Regions from separate parts of the Homo sapiens genome. Here region 1 is linked to region 2. A link means that fine-mapping ties the variant in region 2 to the expression of a gene that starts in the linked region. Tissue or cell type: whole blood. Region 2 holds a variant in brackets; the other region holds the start of a gene. All regions are shown on one strand. Distances are between the middles of the regions.

Region 1 (2,500 bases), 73 kb after region 2:
AAACAAAGGATCTTGCTAACATAATCCCATACCAGTAACACACGATTTATTCCAAACCAATTACTTTAATTAATAGCATTCCTAATGCAAGGATTTTTTTTCCACCTGATCTTTATCTTGCTAAGCTGACAAAACAATTCATTTAAACCCCAACCACTGAGTTAAGTGAGCTTTTAAATTGATCTGTGCACTAAAAAACCAATTAGGTATCCAGAAATTACAGAGCATGCTTAAAAGCAATTTTTTTAAAAAAATGATTTATTGAAAAGGTAGAAAAAAAACGGGCCTTAGAAAGGGATTTGCTCTGCTTTTTGCTTAGGGGTGAAGAGGTGAAACTGTCACTCCTAGATCTCGGCTTGGAAATTGTTTTTTAATCATCTCTCTTGGAAATGGAGGCACAGCCAGCCAGCCCAATCCCCTCGCCGCCTCCACGCGTCAGCTTTGCGCATCAGTTGTCCCCGATTTCTTTTCATGCCCAACCTCACAACAAGGAAAAGCAGGGTTTTAAGCAATTTCAAGCCAGGCAGAACGTTGAGCCAGTGATGACAATAAGCCGCTCAGTTCGCTAACAATCAATCAGAGAAGGAAAACGGCTCAGGCCGGGCACCTTGGCAAGTGAGGACTCTGCACCCGGGGCACCGGTGCCAGCCCGCGCTGCAGGGCAACGCCCACCCGCCCACGGTGCCCGGCGCCCACGCGGGCGACACCTCCTCGCAGAGCCTGGACGCCGTGCCATGCCCGCGGTGCCGCGGCCGGGCAGGGGTACCCCCGAGGATACCATGGCGCCCCCGCCCCCTTTTTCCCTTTGTTGCACATCCACCCGAACCACCAGGCACGCTGCACCGACCCCGATCCTGCTACGGGTCGGCGGGGGACTCCCCGCAATAGAGTCAGGCCGCATCCACGCGGGCACTGTAGCCTCCTCATTGTGGAGACGATGAAACGGAGCATACAGACCGTCTCCTGCCACCCTATGTGGCCGCCAGTCCCCGGACCACAGTTACTGGGGGCTGCGAAGTGGCTGTACGCGTAGACACCGACCTCCGTAGCAGCCCTCGCGAAGCCCGGATGCGGGGCGACCCCGCGCGCCCTACCTGGATCCGGGGATCCACCTCTTCTTCCTCCTCCAGCCCCTGCTCCATCCCCTCTTCCTCCTCCTCCTCCTCGTCCCGGGCAGGCGGCAGGATTTCGGCTGGCTCCTCCGAGCGGCTCCGCTTCAGTGCCGCGTCCATGCAGGCAGCCGGCACGCGCGCCGCGCAGTGGGCTCCGGAGCGCCCCGGGGGTCGCGGCTGCCACAGGCTGGGCTGGAGCCGCCTCGCCACAGCCGGGCACGGTCGGGGAGCCGCCGGGGCCGACACCCGGGAGACGCAGCTCGCCGATGCGGATACCTCCGGCCGCGGCGGAGCAGAGGAAATGGGCGCGGCCGCCCCCTTTCTGCCGCGGCAGTCAGCGCAGCGCCCGCTCCGCCCCCGTCCCGCCCCGGCCTCGCGTTCCGCCGCCAGTCCCAGCTATCCAGGTCTCCGTCGCAAAACCCCAGCTCCCTCCACATCTCCAAGGTGGCAAAATAGGACAGCCCCCACCCCCTTGTAACTTAGCAGCTCGGATATATCTCAACTACGTAACGCAAGCCTCCCGCTTTCGGGAGTCCCCTCCTCCAGCCCTCCTCCGAGGCTCGTTGTTTGTGTGGTAGGGAGGCGTGGGTGTTTTCACACTGAAGTCGCCTTCTGAAGCCTACGCTCAGTGACCCTGGCCCTCAGGACCAAGACTTGCCGAAACCCTATACCCAAAGCACACTCATCCTCTTGAGCGAACCTTGGGAATGGCGGAGGTTCCGTGCACTGATGCATTGCCGAAGGCTGCGGCCTCTCTGGGCGAGCCCCATACCGAAACACAGAGGTGCGGCGGTCCTACCTGAATAGCCAGGAGCATGGAGAATGCATTGAGCTGGGATTTAAGGAGGTGGCAAGTGTAACCCCTGTTGATGGGCACACTCTGGCCAAGAATTTATGAATTAGTGAGACTTTCTGCCCACCATCAACAAGTAGGGAGACAGAGTTGGCCTGGCAGACACAGCATCCGAAAAGGCCAAACTGAAGAGGCACGTGTGTGTGCTTTTATGAAATGTCAGGGCCACTGTGATGTCAGGGGAACGCAAAGGATGACCTTGGCAAAGCAGATGAGCACATGGCTGCTCACGTCTCCTTGCCTTGAGAAATGCAGAACGTGCACATGTCCTACACGGAGGCCTGTAGCCCATCGGCTCTGAGTTTGGAGGACAAATTTGCTTGAGAAAGGAGCTTCTTTCTGAGAACCTATCATCAAAGCCACCTTACAAAACCTGGGTCTGGCACAACGTGGTGGCTCGTATCTGTAATCCCAGCTCTTTGAGATGCCAGGACACAAGGATCACTTGAGGCCAGGAGTTCAACACCAGCCTGGACAATACAGCCAGACCCCTTCTCAAATGAATAAATAGTCCTGCTCCTGGTGGTTTTATCAG
Region 2 (2,757 bases):
TTCTTTCCTGCAGGACTTCTCAGCCTTGAATGTTCAAATGTATACTTTGACTCTCAAAGAGGAGTGAAGGTGTAACATTTTCCCAATTTATTTGACCACAGAATCCTGACTTTGAGGAACACTTAGTACCTTCTTAATGAACACAGTGTTCCATAAAACATGGGAACCCACCAGAAATAGCCCTCAGGCCTGCCCAACTCTGAGACCTTTCACTGATGGCCAGAGAAAGTGAGGACCTTGGGAAACAAATCACACAGTCTGATATCTCCCCACATACCCAGTGGAGCCCCTGACTTACCAGAAATGGCATCAGGCTCAGGTTTGCTCCCTGGCAGATCCTCCACAGATGTGCTGCTGCCCTCAGCACCAACACCGCATCCCCGAGGCCCCATGGCACTGGAGCGCCGCCGCTCGTGGATCTCATCTGAGATCATCTCCAGGTTCTTCAGGGCCATCTTGTACTCGCCTTTTGCCAGGGTCAGTTTGGCCTGCAGGTCATCCACAGTCTTTTTCAGTTGCTGATCAAGAGAACAGGAGACTAAGTGAAGACTACCCTGCTAGCCTTAAGATGCTTTCTGAATGACAGGTTCAAGTACATTTTCTGCCCATCATTCTACTTCAAGGAATTTTCCAAGACATGACTGAAGACCTAATTACCATTGTAACTGCTATTCATTCACCAGACAAAATCAGCCACCACCATCCCCAGATCCCATCCAGGTGACAACCTCTAATATCCAAAAACTCTCACTGGTGGAACAAACCCCATCAGGGAAGCAAAAATGGGCATCAGACACACCAAAGTCCCACAGTCTAGACATCTGGTTCCCAGTACAGTGGTTCTCAAAGTTGAGCTTGCATCAAAATCCCCTTGGGTGTTAAGACTCAGCTCACTAGACTCCAACCTCAGAGTTTCTAATTCAGTCGGTCTAGAGTGGGACCTGGTCTATCAGGTCTCCAGGTGATGCTGATGCTGCTGGTCCTAAGAGCATGCTGTGAGAACCACTGGCCTAGTACAACAGAGAAGGTGACTGAATGGCAGTTACAGAGGTTCAGAGACCACTGAAGACCCAACCGAGACAATTTTGAGGTCTGAAAACTCAGTAAAGCCTGTCTCTCCACTTTCCCCTTATAGCAAGTGGCCCATGTGATACTCTGCTACCCCAGAAAAGTGAAGCTTTGAGTGCAGAAAAATCTCATCAGTGACGAAGCCCAAAGCTACACATACCTCGAGCTGCACATAGTACTTTGCCTTGAGTTCAAAATAAGGCCTGCAGAAGACAGGAAGGAAAGCCATCAGAGTAATATAATACAGTGACCACA[G/A]TCAACTCCACAAGATGAACAAGAGGCATCAGCTACCACTGGCCAGGTCGTCCTTCCAATATTTAGTAAACTCTTAACAAGGCCGTGACATGTCAGTGATGCTCCTAGCTCTGGAGACTGACAGACACCAGATGGAACGACTGGGCTCACCCAGGGCTATATTAACAGGAGGCCCATCTCAAGACACGGGGAACCCACACACACATATCTTGGGGACTCTGCAACTTAGCTCATGTTCCTCCTCTGTGGGAAGGCTGTTCAGAGCCTCACAGGTTATACCCAGCAGTAAGGGTGGCCTGGATCTGCTCTCCTAATGAAGTTGGCTCCCCAGGGATGAAGAGCAGCTGAGGCTGGAGAAGGGGCTGCTTAAACCTCCTCCTCTACTGAAGTCAACTGGGGAAGAGAGAGAAGCACCACTCCTCCCTCACAGCACAGCAAGGCCACCACTAGGAGGGGGTCTCAGGTTGGTCCTCCCAAACCTTGTCCAAAGACTGGAGTTATTAGTTGGCTGACTCAGCCACATAATGGGCCCAAGAAATGCCAGCGTCCTAGCAGTTCCCTTGGTTCTGGGTCAGCTGAAAGAGCTTGGCTCTTTTTTAGGAACTTTGGTGCCTGAACATTAAGAGTAGATCACTGCTTTATTCTTGAGCTGTTCACCCTCCATGAAGCTCTCAAGTCCTGCATCCTGAGGATCCAGATGGATGACAAGGACACAGGACTGCCATTGGTGGGTATGAAAATCCTGAAATTTGGGGGGAGAGAGAGGTGTATAAGCTCTCTCGTGTGACCAAAAGGAGCACAAGGTGAAGAGTATGTGTGTGAATGGGCATCGGAGGGCACAGGGAAGATGTCCCAGCAAAAGGAACATGAGCATCCATGCAAGGGAGTGTGGCTGGAGAGGCAGGGTGGGCATGGAGGTGGCCTGGAAGCCACTCTGTGGAATGCACAGATGTACATTTTAACCTTTGGGCAGACAGGAGCCACCCAAGACTACGATCTATCCCTGTACTCTTCTCGGAGTCTGAAAAGGTTGGCAAAGTACAATCACAAGATTTATTTTCTTAAACAGGTTAATGGATGAGTATGTGATGTGTGTGCAGTGTGAATTCGGGGTCTTTTGAGAAAAGACCCACCATATTCACACCAAAGGAAGCAGCATCAAAGGCTGCTCCTCGGCCTCCTTGGGTGTTGGCATGTGGATGATGCCTGGGCTTGCCCAGAGCAGGCACAGGTCCTACAACAACCCTCGCCACCTCCTGCCTCCCCTGCAGAAAAATGCCATATACACGTCTACTACTTAGCTCTCAGGAGATCAGCCCCTGACACACCAAAAACCAAACCAAAACAAAAATACACTAGTCAATTAAGTGCAATAGTAAATGGTTAAATGGTGTTCCTCTGCATGTATGTGTACATATGTATGTTGGAAGAGTG

What was found. PIP is the estimated chance that this variant, and not a neighbour inherited with it, causes the effect.
Region 1: SH3BP5 starts here. The variant in region 2 is fine-mapped to the expression of SH3BP5 in whole blood (TOPMed, PIP above 0.99).

Annotation. Positions count from the first base shown.
Region 1 is chr3:15,331,177-15,333,676 of GRCh38, forward strand. It overlaps SH3BP5 (SH3 domain binding protein 5), which reads right to left and starts at 1,410. Exons shown (of 9, transcript NM_004844.5): 1 at 1,095-1,410. The coding sequence starts at 1,232. RefSeq lists silencers at 979-1,038, 1,119-1,518.
Region 2 is chr3:15,258,533-15,261,289 of GRCh38, forward strand. SH3BP5 (SH3 domain binding protein 5) reads right to left here. Exons shown (of 9, transcript NM_004844.5): 6 at 1,229-1,271; 7 at 299-518. It overlaps SH3BP5-AS1 (SH3BP5 antisense RNA 1), which reads left to right. Exons shown (of 3, transcript NR_046084.1): 2 at 102-2,050. Among named protein-coding and RNA genes, the nearest start is that of SH3BP5-AS1, 5.7 kb to the left of the region's middle. The variant G/A (reference allele first, on the strand shown) is at 1,324.